Linked DNA regions of Homo sapiens. The protein of the gene in region 1 purifies or fractionates together with the protein of each later gene. This does not show direct contact. Each region holds a gene or a part of one and is shown in the gene's direction. Other genes may lie near its edges.

Region 1 (4,955 bases):
CCCAGGCTGGAGTGCAATGACACGATCTCGGCTCACCGCAACCTCTGCCTCCCGGGTTCAAGCGATTCTCCTGCCTCAGCCTCCCGAGTAGCTGGGATTACAGGCATGCACCACCACACCTGGATAATTTTGTATTTTTAGTAGAGACAGGGTTTCTCCATGTTGGTCAGGATGGTCTCGAACTCCTGACCTCAAGTGAGCCACCCTCCTCGGCCTCTCAAAGTGCTGGGATTACAGGCGTGAGCCACCACGCCCGGCCAAAAATAAAATATTAATGAACACATGGACACAGGGAGGGGAACGTCACACATCAGGTCCTGTTGGGGTGTTGGGGGCTAGGGGAGGGATAGCATTAGGAGAAATACCTAATGTAGATGACAGGTTGATGGGTGTAGCAAACCACCATGGCACATGTATACCTATGCAACAAACCTGCACGTTCTGCACATGTATCTCAGAACTTAAACTATAATTTAAAAAAAAATTATCTTCATCTATAGAAATTAGAAGTATAAGTTGATCAGGTTAATCAAAAAATTCTGTTTATAACTTGGAGCTAATGTTAACTGTCTTGTTTCTTAGAATTGTACAATGAGGTGCCGGGCACGGTGGTTCATGCCTGTAGTCCCAGCACTTTGGGAGGCTGAGGCGGGTGGATTACCTGAAGTTGGGAGTTTGAGACCAGCCTGACCAACATGGAGAAACCCCGTCTCTACTAAAAATACAAAATTAGCTGGGCGTGGTGGCACATGCCTGTAATCCCAACTACTCGGGAAGCTGAGGCAGGAGAATCACTTGAACCCGGGAGGTGGAGCTTGCGGTGAGCCGAGATCGCGCCATTGCACTCCAGCCTGGGCAACAAGAGTGAAACTCCATCTCAAAAAAAAAAAGAAAAAAAAAAAGAATTGTACAATGAGGTAAAATAAAATCATATAGTTGAAACTACTGCCAAGTACAGTGGCTCATACCTGTAATCCCAGCACTCTTGGAGGCCAAGGCAGGCAGATCACTTGAGCACAGGAGTTCGAGACCAGCCTGGGCAACATGGCAAGACCCCGTCTCTACAAAAAAAATATAAAAAAGTAGCTGGGTGTGGTGGTGTGCATCTGTGTGAGGCTGAGATGGGAGGATCACCTAAGCCTGGGAGATCCAAGCTGTAGTGAGCCTCAGTCATCACACCACTGCACTCCAGCCTGGGCAACGGAGTGAGGCCTGTCTCAAAAAAAAAAAAAAAAAAAAAAAAAAGAAGTACTTTGAAACTATCAAGTAAACCATATTAATTTAAAACCAGGCCGGGCGCGGTGGCTCATGCCTGTAATCCCAGCACCTGGGGAGGCCAAGGTGGGCGGATCACTAGGTCAGGAGATCGAGACCATCCTGGCTAGCACGGTGAAACCCGTCTCTACTAAAAATACAAAAAATTAGCTGGGCGTGGTGGTGGGCGCCTGTAGTCCCAGCTACCCGGGAGGCTGAGGCAGGAGAATGGTGTGAACCCTGGAGGCGGAGCTTGCACTGAGCCAAGATAGTGCCACTGCGTCCGGCCTGGGCGAAAGAGTGAGACTCCGTCTCAAAAAAATAAATAAATAAATAAAATAAAATAAATGAAAACCACACTAGGCCAGGCACAGTGGCTCACGTCTGTAATCCCAGCACTTTGGGATGCCGAGGCAGGCAGATCACCTGAGGTCTGGAGTTTGAGACCAGCCCGACCAACACAGAGAAACCCCATCTCTACTAAAAATACAAAAGTTAGCTGGGTGTGGTGGTGCATGCCTGTAGTCCCAGCTACTCAGGAGGCTGAGGCAGGAGAATCACTTGAACCCAGGAGGCAGAGGTTGCAATAAGCCGAGATGGCGCCAATGCACTCCAGCCTGGGCAACAAGAGCAAAACCCCATCTCAAAAAACAAACAAACAAACAAAACTAATTAAAATCAATTAGGGAAAGCTTTTTAGAATAGGTTGTTGGAGCTAGATTTGGAAAGAAAAGTAAGGATATAAATTACTAATGTACAGAGGTAGAAGAGAGTGACCCAAGGCTGAGGACATTTCTAGGTGCCTTATGCCCGCTCAGAGGCCCACCTCACAGAGCTGCTGGAGGAGATATGTGACCGGATGAAGGAGTATGGGGAACAGATTGATCCTTCCACCCATCGCAAGAACTACGTACGTGTAGTGGGCCGGAATGGAGAATCCAGTGAACTGGACCTACAAGGCATCCGAATCGACTCAGATATTAGCGGCACCCTCAAGTTTGCGGTGAGCTATGGGAATCGGTAGCTGGTTCTTGGACATTAAGGGGTTGTTGGAGAACCAATTAGAAAGTTAGGCTGATATCCTTGTCCTCCTCTTTGGAAGTGAAGGCAAGAGGCCTCTTATTGCCCTGTGTCACCCATTTCTCCCTTGGGTTGGCAGTGTGAGAGCATTGTGGAGGAATACGAGGATGAACTCATTGAATTCTTTTCCCGAGAGGCTGACAATGTTAAAGACAAACTTTGCAGTAAGCGAACAGGTAAGCTGCCCCCACTTTATCTCCTGTTCTAGTAGCTCTGTGGAACCTGACATTCCCTAACTCACCCATACACCCCCATCCCAGAAACCTCTGGTATTAGGTCAAGAGCTGTCTTCCATTTCCCTTGGCTTAGGGACTTGGGGTGTTCCTCCACATTTTCTGTCAGCTTTCAGAATTTGTGTCCCCTTGACCCTGAGATACAGGTGAGAGGACAGTGGGGATGTTTTATCATTTATAAGCATATATTCTGCAGAATGGTGGTTGGTGTGTGTTTGTGTCAGCTTGGTCTGGGAAATTTTCTTGATACTGGCAGATATCAGTATGAGAATGGCATATTCCTTTAAATTGTTTGCCATTTGCAGATCTTTGTGACCATGCCCTGCACATATCGCATGATGAGCTATGAACCACTGGAGCAGCCCACACTGGCTTGATGGATCACCCCCAGGAGGGGAAAATGGTGGCAATGCCTTTTATATATTATGTTTTTACTGAAATTAACTGAAAAAATATGAAACCAAAAGTACAAACTGTGTTGTCTTTTCATGCCTGGAATTGCCCTTACATTAAGCTTGAAGATAAGGAGTTATATAGACAGGAAAGATAATGGAGGAGAAAGAAGAGTTTTGGGATTGATACAGGATAAAGGTAGGAGAGGCCTGAACCTTTAATTCTTCTACCTTCTGAGATTCCACTCCACTCATAAACTAGATAAGCTTTCAGTCAGTGCCCACTCAATACCACGTCTTTAGAGTCTAATTGTGGAGAATAGAGGAACCTCCATGAGGAAGCAGGGGAACATAGTGTATGGTAGTGTAGAATTCTAGAAATCCCTTGTGTTCATGGCTGTTGAAACATAAAGTAAGACAGGGCTTGGTCTTGAAGGAAATAACGGATATGCATTATTCTTCCTTCCCTGCCCATCCAGATGGAGGGACCAGCAAGAACAGAGACAGGAAGGGGAAAATGGATGTGACCAACTCAGCTGAAAAGTAAGGGCTTTATCGGATAGGGACAGACGAGGTAAGGAAGGTTGTTTAATGAGAGGCCTTGCTTGCCAGCCTAAGCTTTTAAATTTGATGCCAGTGGCAACAATAAAGTGTATCTATCACTAGCCATTGTCAATCTGGACTATAAGTCTGTCCACAATTCTGTGTGTAGAGATTCCAGACTGGGGCATAGGGATGAAAACCTAAAGGATACCTTCTTTTGGGAAATTCTTTTTTTCTTTTTTTTTCTGAGATGGAGTCCCGCTCTGTCGCCTAGGCTGGAGTACAGTGGCGCGATCTCGGCTCACTACAAGCTCTGCCTCCCAGGTTCACGCCATTATCCTGACTCAGCCTCCCGAGTAGCTGGGACTACAGGCGCCCGCCACCACACCGGCTAATTTTTTTTTTTTTTTTTTTGTGAGACAGAGTCTCGCTCTATCGCCCAGGCTGGAGTACAGTGGCGCGATCTCGGCTTACTGCAAGCTTCGCCTCCCGGGTTCACACCATTCTCCTGCCTCAGCCTCCCAAGTAGCTGGGACTATAGGCACCCGCCACCACGCCCGGCTAATTTTTTGTATTTTTAGTAGAGACGGGGTTTCACCATGTTAGCCAGGATGGTCTCGATCTCCTGACTTCGTGATCCGCCCGCCTTGGCCTCCCAAACTGCTGGGATTACAGGCGTGAGCCACCGCGCCCGGCCTGCACTGGCTAATTTTTTTGTATTTTTAGTAGAGGCAGGGTTTCACCGTGTTAGCCAGGATGGTCTCGATCTCCTGACCTCATGATCCGCCCGCCTTGGCCTCCCCAAATGCTGGGATTACTGGTGTGAGCCACCGCACCTGGCAGAAAATTCTTAAGCACTCTGAGCTTGAGGTATGGTTGTCTCAGGGTTTCAAATGGAATATCTCCGGTCCCAAGAACACCTCAAGGAGAGAAGACCTGAATAAACATTTCAAAGGTTTTAAAAATTACATCATTTTAGAATCTAAAGGAACCTTAGAGGTCGTCTGGTTCACCTCTGCCCATTTTATTGATGAAGAAGCTGAGGCCCAGAGAAGCCATAGAACTTTATGAAGTTCTGTATTTAATGGCAAAACTGGGTCTATAAGCTAACTTTCCCAAGTGCTGACCTGATCTAATATAGCTATAGAGTACCTTCTATTTTAAGTCTTTTTTCTCTAATAATACCTTGCACTAAGCCTGGCGCATAGAATGCATATATTCCACAAAGCTTTCTTGTACCAAAAATCCCTGTGAAATCTGACAAATTAACTAGAGCACAGAGCAAGCACTCTGATATTTGTTGTCAACTAATATCAGCCTGGTGTTAATTCCATCTTCTCCCATCATCCATAAGAAATGCTGTGTTCGCTCTAGTTTTCCAAACCAACTATTATAAAGCTTATTTTTTCTTCTATGATGCATATAAGTAATAATTACATTTTTTCATGTCCCT
Region 2 (7,970 bases), on another chromosome or scaffold:
ACATTTCTCTTTTTTATTTCTATGCCTTGCTTATTTTCAAAAACAGGTTTTAACTTCTATAACATTTTCCAAATAGCACTGCTGGAAAAAGAATAAATATATTTGCTTTTTTGGTATATCAGACTCTGCATTTCCTTCCTTTAAAAATTTCTTTTGCCATTTTTAACTTTATTTCCTGAAAAAATTAGCATTAAATATTATTTTTATCCATAGTTGAAAAAAACTAAAGCATCCATTTTACATTTCTATATTGAAGAAGTTTGAACATATAACACATATATTTACAGTTTATAACTCACTTTTACATATGTTGCCTCAATGCAAAATTTTGCTTAACTTTAACACAGCTTAAACATAATATTGCCCATATGACAGTCTTGCTTTTGATATTATCTTATAATCTACAATGGTAAAAGCTGGGAAACAGTTTCAAAGTTTGTAGCTTGGTATGTCAAACAGAATTTGACTTTCACAATTTGTCTAAAATCTTTTTGCCAAAAATGCACAACACAGTTTTATAAAGAAAGGGGGAGGAGCTTAGTTGAAGCAATTTATAGACCGTGGAGTGAGAAGTGATGTCCAGAGATTAAGCAGTCAACTTATTCATCCACTGTGGCAGATGGTTTTCTGTCCTTCCCTTGATGGTTTCCAGGAATAACACATCCATAGTCTTCTAAATTAGCTGATTTGTCAATTGATTTGAATACATGTTATAGGTTGTTCTTTATTTCCTAAATTTTATTTTTGCAGTTTAACTTGTTAATTCTTTTTCTTTTTGAAAAGAGAATAGTCAACTTCTTTGGAAAATGGTTCTTAATTTATCTGCAGCCCTATTTTGAAATAAAGTGTATATGGTAAAAGAAAGATTTGTACCATTTCAATTTTTTTTGTTAAGGATTGAGACTTGAATGGCAAAAAGTTGTCTGTCTGTTTTTGAGACGGGGTCTTGCTCTGTGGTCCAGGCTGGAGTACAGTGACACGATCATGACTCACTTCAGCCTTGAACTTCTGAGCTCAAGTTATCCTCCAGCCTCAGCCTTAAATATATATATTTTTTAATTTGACAAATTTATACTTGTGGTAGGTGAAATGTTTGAATAAAGAAGTAATATAACAGGTAGTTATTTTTCCCCCAATTATAACATGACATACTTCAGTACTTGCTATTATATGTCCTGAGGTGAATCTGGTTCATTGACTCATGAGCACATCCATTAAGTGTGTGTTACAGAAACACCTTATTTATTTATTTGTTTGTTTGAGACAGGGTCTGGCTCTGTCACCCAGGCTGGAGTGCAGTGGTGCAATCTCGGCTCACTGCAACTTCCGCCCCGGCGGGCTCAAGTGATTCTCCCACCTGGGCCTCCCAAAGTGCTGGGATTACAGGTGTGAGCCATCATGCCCAGCCTATTTATTTTAATATATGCTTTGTTGCCCTTCTTTGGAAAAAGTCTTATTCTGGTTATTCTGTTATTTCTTGTTCTTGTGCTGCAAATCCCTCCATTTGGTGAGTCCACTGACTATCTCTCATCATGGTTCATTTTCTATTCTGGTCTGTAACTTTTTACTGTGATGCATCATTAGTAAAGGTTTAGTCTGTTGTATGTTTTGGAAGCATTCCTGCAAAGAGTTTTCACATTTGCTCTTACCAGGTCCTAAAGTTTTACCAGTTCAGGACTACTTTTCTTTTTTCAGTTTTTGGCATGAGGATAGGGTGGGATTCTAAACCATGAAGGTTGTGTGAATTTAGGCCCACACTCTATGCATGGTTCATGCCTCATATGGTTCTGATTTCCTCTGGTGACTTTCCCCCCATTGCCTTAGTTGATGTCATGCCTACTTGGGTTTCCTGGCCAGTAAGCTAAGTTTTTATAGTCCTGGTTTCATGGATAGGGTGATCCTTTCAGAGTTTTGACTTTATGAAGGTCCTTCCAACTGTGACCTGTGTCTTTAAATAACGTCTCTGAATGGGTGTTAGGGAGTCCCCTTGTAACCATTATGGCCTGTAACTGGTTCCATGAGTCATGTTAGCTTCAGCCCCTGACCTCTGTTCATTGACTTTCTTTTTTCTGCTCATTGACTTTCTTTCTTTCTTTTTTTTTTTTTTTTGAGACGGAGTTTTTCTCTTGTTGCCCAGGCTGGAGTGCAATGGCATGATCTTGGCTCACTGCAATCTCCACCTCTTGGATTCAAGCGATTCTCCTGCCTCACTCTCCCGAGTAGCTGGGATTACAGTCATGTGCCACCATGCCTGGCTAATTTTATATTTTTAGTAGAGACGGGGTTTCTCTGTGTTGGTCAAGCTGGTTTCAAACTCCTGACCTCAGGTGATCCACCTGCCTCAGCCTCCCAAAGTGCTGGGATTACAGGCGTGAGCCACCATGCCCAGCTAACTTTCTTCTTAGTTTCTTACTACTGTGGATTCTCTGCACTTCTTTCAAGTTCAGTTATTTAAGTAGTGTTTCAGTGCTTATATTTTTAAATATTTCATTGTGTTTGGATCTGTTTGGGTTTGAGAGGCAAAAGGATGCTGTTATACAATTTAAAATTATTTTAGATTTTTATAATTTTTAATTTGCTCATCACCTATCAACATGTCAAATATTTTGTGCCTATTATGTACTGTGTACTTTGAGAAATAAAGATCTTTGGCTAGATTCCCTCCTTCAAGAGACTTATTCCTAATATAAACCCTAGTGGAACTAAGGTATATATCTCATAAAAATGCAGTGCCAGTAGGTATCAGAAAGTAAGGCTACTGATGTGGAAAAAAGTGGTTGGAAAAGAAATGATAGAGGAAGCGAGACTTAACGTAAAATACGAAGAGTGGTTAGAACTTGATTGGGTTTGCTGGGTTAGACAAGAAGAGATTGGTCCAGCTTGAAGAGAGCCTTAAAATACCAAACCAAATAATTTAGATTATATCTTGCAGATAAGAAAAAGGCATTGGAGGTTTTTCAGTGGAAGGGACATTTAGTGCAAATAATGTTTTATAATCTTAGTGCTGAAGTTTTGGAAGACTAGTGCATTGCTCTATTAAAGAAAAGTTGGGGCAGGGCGTGGTGGCTTACACCTGTAATCCCAGCACTTTGGGAGGCCGAGGCAGGCAGATCACCTGAGGTCAGGAGTTCGAGATCAGCCTTGCTAACATGGTGAAACCCTGTTTCTACTAAAACTACAAAAAATTAGCTGGGCATGATGGTGTATGCCTGTAGTCCCAGCTACTCAGGAGGATGAGGCATGAGAATCGCTTGAAACCAGGAGGCAGAGGTTACAGTGAGCCGAGATTGCGCCAGGGCACTCCAGCCTGGGCGGCAAGAGAGACACCCTGTCTCGAAAAAAAAAAAAGAAAAGTTGGTACATCTCCCTTCTTAGAAGTTAAACTCAAGACTTTACAGGTACAAAAATAAGTTTGTTTTATAGTTCCTTGTTGTCAACAAAAGTTTACCTACTCAATGAGGATGGGCCCCAGCCTATGTTGTAAATGAGTGGAGCTGGCTGGGAACGAGAGTGGCCACTGAGAGAGCTCATGCCTCTTGGGATCTTGTTGATTGTTAAAGGTTACAAACTAGATCAAATTTTTAAAAAACACTGTTTGGCCTCAGTGAAATATGTATACAAACATAGTTTGAAACAAAAGCTGTGAGTTTGCAACCTCTTTATAGATAGCGTTCATTATTAAATCTTTATTATATTCTATCATAACATTTAAAAAATACATTATTTAAAATTGTGTACAAAATAGAAAAATGTGGCCTGTTTGATTTGAAGGGTTGAATAAGTGGCTATTTATAATTTTGGATATTTTGACTTTGTGACTTGGACATAAAAATATTTTCCAAAACTCTTTTCTTACAGGTAAAAGAATGTCACATGTCAGCATTTGTACCTGAAGTCAGCATGCAAAGTTCAGGGTACCTGGATGAATGCCAACTTTTGCATTTCCCATGTGTATCCTGTGACCATTCTATCTGGGGTGAGTGATTTCTAAGAGTAGCTGGCAACAAACCAGATGCCAGCCAGCCATGGACTGCCCTAACAAATAATGCTAGGAGTTATAAATTAAACACTGATCTGTGATCTGTGATGTGTAAGGCAGTTAATGTAGTTCATCTGGATTAACTGTCAGCACCAAAGAACTATATTCCCATAATGTGAAATCTGAATTCTGTATGTTTGAAAGAGAGTAATAATTAACAGTAGGGAATTTTTGTTAACATGTAAAATTACAGCAATGTCTAAGATTATTTTGAATTTACAGCAGTATTTTAGTGGTTCACCATATAATTTAAATAATTTTAATTTTCAGATTCAAAGACTTAGTATTTCTTGAGTGATGGTTATAATTTTGTATAAAATACGGCTTTTTGGATTGTATATCTTCCAATTGCCTTATAATATAGTTTTGCTTCCCATATTGTATGCATAACAATATTTAGGTTTCTTAAAAATACATTAGAAAATTTATTTATACCAGACTTCACATTTGTATTTTAAAACTTGTTTTTTTAGTTTCATTCTGAGAAATTACATTGAGGGTAGAGCCTGTTCATTACCTTATCCATGCATTTTTCTGCTTATTTAAATTATTTTACTTCACCAAGCCATTCATTTTTTTAGAACATCCTTCAAAGAGTTCATGCATCTTACTGAGGACACCTGACCTTTTGAAGCTTCATAATTCACATCTAGATGTCACCGGTCTTTCCCATGTTAACAGTTCTGACCATGTTTTATTATATATGCCTTCGGCGCCGAGCCAGGACAGCTACAAGAGGAGAAATGATGAACACCCATAGAGCTATAGAATCAAACAGCCAGACTTCCCCTCTCAATGCAGAGGTAGTCCAGTATGCCAAAGAAGTAGTGGATTTCAGTTCCCATTATGGAAGTGAGAATAGTATGTCCTATACTATGTGGAATTTGGCTGGTGTACCAAATGTATTCCCAAGTTCTGGTGACTTTACTCAGACAGCTGTGTTTCGAACTTATGGGACATGGTGGGATCAGTGTCCTAGTGCTTCCTTGCCATTCAAGAGGACGCCACCTAATTTTCAGAGCCAGGACTATGTGGAACTTACTTTTGAACAACAGGTGTATCCTACAGCTGTACATGTTCTAGAAACCTATCATCCCGGAGCAGTCATTAGAATTCTCGCTTGTTCTGCAAATCCTTATTCCCCAAATCCACCAGCTGAAGTAAGGTAAGACTAATTTTTTAATGACCTAAGTTATATGGTAGAAAGGTTTTGGTTGTTAATATTGGAGATCTTTTTTATTGCAAGCATTCTTTTAAGTAACTTAATTGAATTTGATTTTGAAAATTTTCCTTAGTTTTCTGATGGGGAAGAGAGATCACTCATATAAAGATTTAATTCAGGCTTTATACCTGTAATACCTCATACTGTAATATTCATGGCTTATGATATTTGTATCTCATAAAATTTACCAAAACCAAAAAGCACAATTTGAACTCATAGGGACATGGGCCATTCTGGGACGTTAGTACGAAATATGACTTTGAAAATATTTTCAAACAGGCATCATGTTACTACTTTTAAATCTTTTCAACAACTCACAATAGGCCTGTGAGTGACACTTCAGAGGAGGTCCTTAGGGGATTTGGTTTAACGTTAGTTGAATGTTTTTGCAACACCCATATTCATTTAAAAATCAATGTTGCTTTAAGTAATTCATGCATTCTCCCTACAAGCCTGTTTTGCATAACAGCTCCTTGGCTGTCGTTTTTGTCATTCAACCTCCTAATTTTACAAAATATTAATATAATGCAGTCTCACATGTACCCTGTTCTCCATGTGCCTAGGACCCATTCCTCCCTCGAAGAAACCACTTTTATCAGCTCATTTTGTATCTTTCCAGAATTTCTTTGTGCAGACACAAGCAAATACAAATATAATTTTATATTTTTATACACAAAAGTAAGCATATTTATCACACTGTTCTGTACCTTGTTTCACACAGTAGTATATGTTGGATCTTTTCTTGTAAGTACAAAGAGAGCTTCCTCATTCTTTCCTGCATTTGCAAGTAATGCATAGTGTGTATGAACCCCAACTTATTAACTAGTCCCCCATTGATGGGCACTTAGTTGTTTCTAGTCTTTTGCTCTTATAAACATTAATGCAGGGAATGACCTTATCATAAGTCACTTTGCATGTGTGCAAGTATATCTGTGGGATAAATTTCCTAGAAGAAGGCTACTCAACCAAGGATAATTTGATAATTTTGTAATGTTTAACATTTTTTTTTTGCATTTTAACAATTTATTCTTAGTTACATTTAATTTTAATTTTTAACAGTTGTAATTTTCATATGTAATGCCAAATTTCTCTCCAAAGAGTCTGTACTATTTATATTCCCACTAGCAGGGCATGTACATGGGTGTTTTGCCAAAGCCTCGCCTACAGAGTATGTTTATAAATTTCAATATTTTTGCAATTTAATAGGTGAAAAATGTTATCTCATGTTAACTGTTAAAATTCTTTTATTATCTCTGAGGTTGAAATCTTTTCATATGTTTAAAAGCCATTTATATTTCTTTTTCCTTTAACTATCTGATCATATTATTTGCTCATTTTTTCTATTACTCATGGATCTTAGCAGTTTCTAGGACTTCATATCACTTTATTAAATCACTCGTTCATTAAATATTTTAGTGCCTACCTAATGTGCTAGGTGTTGTTCTAGGTATTAGAGATGTGTCAGCGAGCAGTGAACAAAATAAATAAAAATTCCCGCTCTCATTCTAGCCTGAGAGCAGATCAGGGCACCTGTTCAACTGTAGGGATGGCCAGCTGCCAGTGCAGGAGGAGGCGGGCAGAGGTCAGCTGCTACCTCCGTAACATGCAGCTCCTCTGATATCTCTGTCCCCTCATCTCTAAGGGAATACTTCCAGGGCCTGCCAGAAAACATACAGAGTACAGCTCAACTTGGAGATTGCTGGTATAATCTTTACTTTTTTTTCCAGAACTACCTAATAATTCATTGCAAATAATGTTATTAGTCGTTTTTTAAACTCAGAAAGCCAGCATACCTTAATTAAAATCAGATTTTTGTTTTCTCCCTAAGAGGAAAAAATGGAGTAGGATCTTTTGTTTTGTTTTGAGACAGGGTCTCACTCTGTCGCCCAGGCTGGAGTGTAGTGGCACGATCTTGGCTCACTGCAACCTCTGCCTCTCGGGTTAATGAGATTCTCCTGCCTCAGCCACCTGAGCGGCTGGGATTACAGGTGCGTGCCACCATGCCTGGCTAATTTTTGTATTTTTAATAGAGATGGGGTTTCACCAGGTTGGGCAGGCTGGTCTCGAACTCTTGACCTCAGGTGATCCGCCTGCCTCGGCCTCCCAAAGTGCTGGAATTACAGATGGGAGCCACTGTGCATGGCAGGATCTTTTCTTATATGAGAATTGTTTTATTAGGACTCTGACATTCTTCTTACAAAGTTACCTACTTTTTTCCAAAAATCTGAAAAGATTTAGGGAGGAGATCAATGGAACATGTAATGTGTTTTCTCCAGTCTAAAACTTAACAGCTGCATAACTAATTTTAAGTACAAATCATGCTCTTGGGTTACTGAGAGTTACTGGTATATGGTTGTGATTAAAGTTAAAACTTTATTTATACCTGTATCTCTAATTTTCTTTACTGATTTTCAGCTTTAGTCTACTGAAAATACCATTACATTTTAAGAGAAAAAAAGGTGACCAATATATTATTAAGATATAAGAAAAAGCCTTTTTAAATTTTACTGATTATGAAATCAATAGATGTTTCATTGTTTAAAAATAATCTAGAAAATACCAAAAAAAAAGGAAAATATATATGAAAAAAATCTGTAATTCTTCTGCCCAGATTCAGTAACTGTTAACATTTGGGTGAATTTTTTATACAATCAGAAACATTTATTGAACACCCTCTCTGCCAGTTCACTGCTAGGAACCAAGTAGAGA
Region 3 (8,261 bases), on another chromosome or scaffold:
TAGTACTGAAAGTCCTAGCCAGAGCAATTAGACAAGAAAATAAAAGGCATCCACATTGGATAGGGAGTAAAATTATATTTTTTCACCAATGACATGATCTTATAGCGATTCTATAAAAACAGAATAATTAACAAATTCAGCAAAGTTGTCAAATACAAAATCAACACACAGAAATCAGTTGCATTTCTATATAGTACTAGCAGTGAACACTTCATGAAGGAAATTAGCAGTTTCATTTAAATAGCATCAAAAAGAATAAAATACATAGGAATTAACCAAGGAGGTGAAAGACTTGTACACAGAAAACTACAAAATATTGTTGAAAGAAATTAAAGAAGACATAATTAAATGGAAAGACATCCTGTGTTCAATTATATCCATTTAAAGACACAATTAAATGGAAAGACATCCTGTGTTGGAAAGTTTAATATTGTTCACATGTCAGTACTACCCAAAGTGGTCATCAGAGGCAATGCAATCCTATTAACATCCCAACAGTGTTTTTTTAGAAATATAAAAACCTATCACAGGCCAGGTTCGGTTGTTCATGCCTGTAATCCCAATATTTTGCCAAGCCTAGGAGTTCAAGACCAGCCTGGGCAATATAACGAGACCCTAGCTTTAACAACAACAACAACAAAAAGCCAGGTGTGGTAGCACATGTCTGTAGTCATAGGTACTTTAGAGGTTGAGGCAGGAGGATCACTTGAGCCCAAGAATTTGAGGCAGCAGTGAGCTATTATCAGGCTACTAAACTCTAGTCTGGGTGACAGGGGAGACCCTGTGTCTAGTTTAAAAAAAAAAAAAAAAAGGCCGGGCACGGTGGCTCACGCCTGTAATCCCAGCACTTTGGGAGGCCGAGATGGGTGGATCACGAGGTCAAGAGATCAAGACCATCCTGGCTAACACGGTGAAACCCTGTCTCTACTAAAAATAAAAAAAATTAGCCAGGCGTGGTGGCGGGTGCCTGTAGTCCCAGCTACTCAGGAGGCTGAGGCAGGAGAATGGCGTGAACCTGGGAGGCAGAGGTTGCAGTGAGCCGAGATTGCACCACTGCACTCCAGCCTAGGCGACAGAGCAAGATTCTGTCTCAAAAAAAAAAATAAAAAAAATAAAAAAGAAAGGAAGATAAAACCCATCCTAAAATTCATATGGAATCTGTAGGAACTCCTAATAGCCAAAACCATCTTGAAAAAGAACAAACTTAGAGGCTTCTCACTTCCTGATTTCAAAATTTAAAACAAAGCCACAGTAATCAAGACTGTGTAGTTTGAACACTGTACTTTCCTGAAAAAAGAAAGACAGACATACAGACCAATGGAACAGACTAGAGAGCCTGGAAATAAACCCTTGCATATATGGTCAAATGATTTTCAACAAGGGTACTAAGATAGGGAAAGGATAGTCTTCAACAAATCATGCTGGGACATCTGGATATTCAAATGCAAAAGAATGAAGCTGGATCCCTACCTAACACCGTATGTAAAAATGAACTCAAAATGGGTCAAAGTCCTAAATATAAAGACCTAAACCTATAAAACTTAGCAGAAAACATAGGGCAAAACTTCATAGCACTGGATTTGGCAATGATTTAGATATAACACCACCACTACCACCAACATATAGACAAATTAGACTTGGAAATTAATGAAATTAATTTAGTGAAATTAAGTTAATGACATTTTAATGAAAATGAAAAACTTCTGTGTATCAAAAGACACTATCAACAGAGTGAAAAGGCAGCCTATGGAGAAATACTTGCAAATGATATATCTGACAAGGGATTAATATCCAGAATATCTAGAAAAATCTTACAACTCAACAATAAAAACAAAAATCCAGTGAAAAATGGGCATAGGACTTGAATAGCCATTTCTCCAGTGAAGATATACAAATGGCCAATAACAGGAAAAGATGCTCAATCTCACTAGTCATTAGAGAAATGCAAATTAAAATCACAATGGGACACCACTTCATACCGTTAGGATGGCTATTGGAAAAAAACAAAAGAGAAGGTAACCAAGTGTTGGTGAGGATGTGGAGAAGTTGGAACTCCTGTGCACTGTTGGTGGGAATGTAAAATGGTTCACTTGCTATGGAAAAGTTTGGCAATCTCTCAAAAAGTCAAACAAAATATTACCGTATCATTCAGCAATTTCACTCTTATGTACTGAAAGCAGGGACTCAAACATATACTTGTACACTAATGTTCATAGCAGCATTATTCACAATAGCCAAAAGGTGAAAACAACCCAAGTGTCAATCAACAAATGAATAAACAAAATCTGGTCAATGTGTACAAAGGAATATTACACAGCCTTAAAAATGAAGGAAGTTCTGACACATGCTACGATGTGGATGAACCTTGAAAACATGTTGAGTGAAATAATCCAGTCACAAAATGATAAATACTGTATGATTCCACTTATATGAGGTACCTAGAGTAATTAAATTCACAGAGACAGAATATAGAATGATGGTTACCAGGGGTTGCGAGTGGGAGGGGAAGAGGAGTTAATGTTCTGGAGTGAAGAAAAAGTTCTAGAAATAAATAGTGATCACTGGATATACAACAGCATGAATGTACTTAATGCTCCTGAACTGTATACCTAAAAATGGCTAAAATGGTAAATGTTACTATATTTTACCACAATAAAAAAACAGTCATATGTCACTTAACTGTGGGGATACACTCTGAGAAATGTGTCACTAGGCGATTTTGTCATGGAGGGATCCTCATAGAGTAACTTACACAAACTAAGATGGTAGAGCCTACTACACACCTAGGCTGTATGGTAAGGCCTGTTGCTCCTGGGCTACAAACTTGCACAGTGACTCTACTGAACAATGTAGGCAATTGTGACACAGTGGTATTAGTGCACCTAATCATAGCAAAGGTACAGTAAAAGTACAGTGCAAAAAATAAAAAATAGAACTGGTTAGGGCACTTGCCATGAACAGAGGTGCAGGACTGGAAGTTGCTGTGGGTGTGAGTGGTGAGTGAATGTGAAGGCCTAAGACATTATTGTACACTACTTTAGACTTTATAAACACTGTACACTTAGGCTGCAACACACTTATATTAAACATTTTCCTTTTTTTTTGAGATGGAGTCTCACTCTATTGCCCAGGCTGGAGTGCAGTAGCACAATCTCAGCTCACTGCAACCTCCGCCTCCTGGGTTCAAGCGATTCTCCTGCCTCAGCCTCCCAAGTAGCTGGGATTACAGGCACATACCACCACGCCCGGCTAATTTTTTGTATTTTTGGTAGAGACAGGGTTTCACCATGTTGACCAGGCTGGTCTCAAACTCCTGACCTCAAATGAGCTGCCCGCCTTGGGCTCCCAAAATGCTGGGATTACAAGCATGAGCCTCCACAGCGCCTGGCCTAAAAATTTTCTTTCTTCAATAATAAAATAACTATAGCTTACTGGATGACCAGTTACATATGTGGTCCCTAGTTGACCAAAACGTTGTTATGCGGTGCATGACAGTTATACACAGGAGAGGGCCTGAAAGAAAAAAAAAATTTGGACCAAAAAAGGCCTTTTCTGGCTCAGTTGGATTCATTTCTTCCACAGGCCCACTGCCCACTCTGCTGATGGGCGCTGAGCTGTAGACTGAGCTGCCTTGAGGCTGAGGTAAGCTGAATTTGTGGGAACCCCCACCTTTCCCTTGAGGGAGGAAGTTTAAATTATCAGGTCAATTAGGAAAGATACAACCGAAAAAAATCCAAATTTCATTCCCACTTCAAGGAGGCGTTTCCTGGCTCGGTGCCACTTTTATTATTTTTGGCCCAGGCTGCTGAAAGCCCCACAGACCCAGGGAAGGTACAATGTGACCTTTGATTCGCGTTTCAGGGATCAAAGTGAGTGAGTTTGGGTGTAAATGCAGATAACATTTCAGAGAGCTTTCATGAAAGGAGTCACTGGACCAGGGCAGAAAGGGAGCTGGTGTGTTACGTGTGTGTTCCCCTTGAGAAGCGTCACTTTCCGGTGAATCCGGCTGCCTGCCCGTGGCCCCAAGGACTCCTGGCTTGCATCCAGGTCCTTGGCCCACAGGCATCAGATCCTGAGCTGGGGCGCCTGCACCCTCTCCCACCTCTTCTCTAGGCACCGTGAAGCCGAGGAGAGGTGGCGTGGGACGGCTTGTGCAAGTGAGAAGAGCACCACCACTTCATCCTCACCTATCTTGTCCCAGGATCTGGGTGCTGACTCGGCAGGCTTGGGCTGGGCACGGCCCTGTGGGGAGGGCTTGGTAGCCTGCCCTCGCTGTCGTCTCCGGGTCCAGCCTCGGCCTGAGTCGGGAAGCACACAATTATATCCACAACAAGGAGGCCCAGAGGCCCTGCCTGCAGCCCCCAGGTATGCAGGTAGAGGGTCCTCTCGGACTGCCTGCCCCCTGCCTCTGGCGCCCAGCCTGCAGCTACGTCGAACCGGGCCCTAACAAGGTTCCCCGCACTGGCAATGAGTGATGAGAGGCACTCCGCGGGCACGCCGTTCCAGGGCGCTCACGAGGCCCAGCAGCCCCGCTATGCCCACATCCACCCCGACACCTGCAGCCCCCCAGGCTTAGCCCGGCCCCGCAGCAGCCCTCTCGACGCCCAGCAGCACCCCAGTGTCTGGCTGACGCCAGGGCAGTAACGGCGGGCTGAAGCAGCATCGGCCCCTCGGTCTACGCCACAGCCGGGTGCAGATTTCCCGGATCTGAGGGACCGCCGGGCACCGTCCGCTGGGGATCATGAGGGGCAGCTTTGGCCCGACCGTCTCGCGCCTGTACACGCGGCCCCACCTGATCCCGTGGCACTTGGCGCGGCGTGGGAATGGGCGCGCTCTCCCATCACCCACCGCGCGGCACTGCCGCGCCAGCAGGGACCGGGAGAGCCTGCGAGGTAGCGGCCACACGGCATACAGCGCAGGCGCGGCCTGGATGGGAGGAGCGCGTGGAGCGTGCCGGGAGCATGCGCCGGGTCGTACACGGCGGCCGCGCGCACGCTGGGGGCGTGGCTGCGCGATGTAATCGGTCTCTGGACGCTGCGCGGCGCTCCTAGGAGCAGGCGTTCCCGACTCCGGCAAGAGGGTCAGTGTGGAGGCGGGAGCCCGGGCGGCCGGCTTGAACTCCGTGCACGCGGGCCTGGAGCTGCGCCCCTGCGTCTTTTCCCGACTTCTGATCCGCAGAGGGGCACTCGGAGCCCCAGCCTGGGTCGCAGTGCCTTCGGTCTGCGGGCCTCAGTTTCTCGGTCCGCGCCGGGGGTTTGTGGGGGCACCTGGAGACATTTGGGCCGTTCTCGCAGTCTCGGGAAGCCGCGCCCGCTCCTTGCCTGGCCTCACGGCGGCCGATCTCGTTCTCCACTTTCTAGGTGGCGCCTGGACTCTCGCCCTCAGAGGGAGGCCCGTCCCACGGTCTGTGGCTACGGATCCCAGGACCCTCTTCGCGGGCGATTCGCGTAGCCTCAGGTGGGTGGGCTTCTTGTTGCCGTGGGCCTTGTGAGCTCGTATTTCCTGCATGGCGGTTGCTGGGGGGCGGGCGGTGCAGTCGTCTGCACTCAGCTTGCTTTAAGGCTTTGGGCAGGTTTTGTTCTTGGGGCTCCTGGGTCTCCCCAGAGCAGAGAACGGCTCCAGCGTTCCAGGTGCTGCCTTTGGCCTTGTGGGGGCAAACACACATGCGCCGTGGTACCTGCCCCTTTAGGATAGTGCTGTCCAGTCTAGAAGGGCCGAAAGTCTTCTATGCCAGGCAGTGTGGGGAGAAAAGTAGGGGGACCAACAGACTGATAGGCGTGGGAGGGCTAAGGTTCTCAAAATGGTGAGAGTGCGGCCCAGGGTTAGGAAGGCTCAGGCCCAAAGCAGGCCTGGCTGGCTGGTGCAGGGAAGCCTTCTCCCAGACTGCAGGGGACACAGGTGCGCAGGTGAGTGGGCAGGGTAGGGGACTGGGAAGAAGGGAAGGCAGAGATCTGGGTAGCACACTGTGGCTCCCGGGCATGGGGTGTGGTCATTGTGGGCAACCTGGATACCTAACCTTGGCTGGTGGTGGGAGCTGGGCCCTGGATCGGGGTCACTGCTTTTTTAGAGCTCAGTGAGGGACTGGACTGGACTCGACTCACGTCCAGGCCTTAGTATAATCCTGCAGTAAGGTGGGAAGCCAGGGTCATGGGCTGGGCTTTCAGGTGAAGACCCCCCCCCCAGAGGGGGGTCAGACCTGAGGGATTCCAGAGTGTTTGGGTGGTGGAGGTAGGGCCAGTGGCCCTGGCAGGTTCTAGTGCTGCAGGCCACCCTGGGAGGTACCTGGAGGAACTCACCCTGAGGGGGGATGGCCAGCAGATAGGAGATGTGGGATGAAGGTGTGTGCAGGCCTTGTGCTCCCAGTGAGCCGGTGGCGTTTGTGTGTGGGGTGAAGCAGAGAGTTTCCTGGAGGTCGTGAGTGGGCCTCCGTTTGCAGAGAGACTGGGGAGGGGGCTAGATAGAGTTAGGCTGCAGAGTGTAAGAGCCCTACAGGAGGGCTCCTTGCACTGGAATAGAACTGGCTACTGGCTCTGGAGCCTCCTAGGTGACTGCTGCGTGGAGAAGGAGGGGCGGGTCCAGCCATCAGACTGGGACTCCCCAGACCCTGGGCACAAGTGACTGGAGTGGCGGGAGCAGACAGCAAGTGGGGTTCCAGGATTTTACAATGGTGGGGGCTGGGATGCTCTGCTGTGGCTGGGATGGGGACTGTGGAAAGGTGGTGTTTGTGGGTGGGGGTGGCATTGCCTGCAGGTGGCACTCAGTTGTGAGAGGTGAATTTGGAAAGCATGTGGGGTCAGGAGGGAGCAGAGAATAGCAGGCTCACTGCTCTGTCGGGGAAGCAGGTAGGACCTGCTGTGTGCCTGGTGCTGGGATGTAAAAGAGCCTAATGACGACGCGGTCTGTGCGTTGTTCAGAGTTTTTGGGGCGGCTAGAGCCTACTCAGCAGACAAATGTAGTTTATAATCGCGTGCTGTATAGTAGTTAAGCCTCTGGTCTCTCCAGCCAGTTTTTGCTGCTTCCACCACTTATGGGTTAGTGTGTGGCTGCAGACAAGTTACTTCACCACTGTGTGCCTCAAAGACAATGCTAGTACCAACCTCCTGTGGGGGAGGTGGCACAAATGGGGCACTCAGTGAAAGGTTACTACTATTGCTATCCTGAAATTCCTGACAGTTCTGATCTGGCCCCTTTTCTTCTGAAATTGACAGCATCTGTCATTCTGCCTTGCCCTTGCAATGTCATAGGCAGCATTTGCCCACCTCAGACCTCCCAGGCCAGCCCCCTGGGCCCCTCCTTCCATTCAAAGCTCCTAGTTGGGTACCAGAGGGTTGCCCGCTTGTAGCCTCTTCCCACCAGTCCAGTGGGTGATGGTTAGGCCTAGTTCCTGCTCTTCCCCACCTTGTCTTTGGACAGATTGCCTCGGATGATGGCCTGCGACTGACAGTCTCTCAGCTCTTCTCAGCTCTCCTGAGGCTGCAGCTGTCAGCTCCCTGATCCTCAGCACTTGCCTGGACCAGTGCGGGTCTGCCACGCCCTGTTCAGCCATCCCTGTCCTGTTGTGTCGTGCAAGCCACATCTGTCCACACCCCCACCACCCACCAGTGCTGGCTCTCCTCTCTTCTCCCCTGTGCTCCCAGCATGCCTCGTGGCCGGTGCCGTCAGCAGGGCCCTCGCATTCCCATCTGGGCAGCCGCCAATTATGCCAACGCACATCCATGGCAGCAGATGGACAAGGCGTCTCCTGGGGTGGCATACACCCCCCTTGTGGATCCCTGGATTGAGCGGCCCTGCTGTGGGGACACCGTGTGTGTGCGAACGACCATGGAGCAGAAGAGCACAGCTAGTGGCACTTGTGGCGGTAAACCTGCAGAAAGGGGTCCCCTAGCTGGGCACATGCCCAGCTCCCGACCCCACAGGGTGGACTTCTGCTGGGTACCAGGCTCAGACCCAGGCACCTTTGATGGCTCCCCGTGGCTACTGGACCGCTTCTTGGCCCAGCTGGGCGATTACATGTCCTTCCACTTTGAGCACTATCAGGACAACATCAGCCGTGTCTGCGAGATCCTCAGGCGCCTAACAGGCCGAGCCCAGGCCTGGGCAGCCCCCTACCTTGATGGGGACCTGCCCCTGCCTGACGATTACGAGCTCTTCTGCCAGGATCTCAAGGAAGTTGTTCAAGACCCGAACAGTTTTGCTGAGTACCATGCTGTGGTTACCTGTCCCCTGCCCCTGGCCTCCAGCCAGCTGCCAGTGGCCCCTCA

The links.
Region 2: the proteins of CNPY2 (region 1) and FBXL4 purify together in Homo sapiens (affinity purification with mass spectrometry; 2 studies listed by BioGRID and IntAct, with this or other methods). This does not show direct contact.
Region 3: the proteins of CNPY2 (region 1) and GNB1L purify together in Homo sapiens (affinity purification with mass spectrometry; 2 studies listed by BioGRID and IntAct, with this or other methods). This does not show direct contact.

The regions. Positions count from the first base shown.
Region 1 is NC_000012.12:56,308,513-56,313,467, reverse strand, and holds the end of CNPY2 (protein canopy homolog 2 isoform 1 precursor), read left to right. Parts: intron 1-968; exon of another isoform or gene 969-2,053; coding exon 2,054-2,257; intron 2,258-2,413; coding exon 2,414-2,510; intron 2,511-2,872; coding exon 2,873-2,916; 3' UTR 2,917-3,624; downstream 3,625-4,955. UniProt on the Homo sapiens protein: Positive regulator of neurite outgrowth by stabilizing myosin regulatory light chain (MRLC). It prevents MIR-mediated MRLC ubiquitination and its subsequent proteasomal degradation.
Region 2 is NC_000006.12:98,923,711-98,931,680, reverse strand, and holds part of FBXL4 (F-box/LRR-repeat protein 4), read left to right. Parts: intron 1-3,858; 5' UTR 3,859-3,976; intron 3,977-4,620; 5' UTR 4,621-4,692; coding exon 4,693-5,204; intron 5,205-7,970. UniProt on the Homo sapiens protein: Substrate-recognition component of the mitochondria-localized SCF-FBXL4 ubiquitin E3 ligase complex that plays a role in the restriction of mitophagy by controlling the degradation of BNIP3 and NIX mitophagy receptors.
Region 3 is NC_000022.11:19,851,639-19,859,899, reverse strand, and holds the start of GNB1L (guanine nucleotide-binding protein subunit beta-like protein 1), read left to right. Parts: upstream 1-5,025; 5' UTR 5,026-5,080; exon of another isoform or gene 5,081-5,240; intron 5,241-5,360; 5' UTR 5,361-5,457; intron 5,458-7,413; exon of another isoform or gene 7,414-7,638; coding exon of another isoform or gene 7,639-8,261. Other genes in the region: RTL10 (protein Bop), read left to right, coding at 7,639-8,261. UniProt on the Homo sapiens protein: Acts as a critical regulator of DNA damage response (DDR) signaling via specifically regulating phosphatidylinositol 3-kinase-related protein kinase (PIKK) family proteins.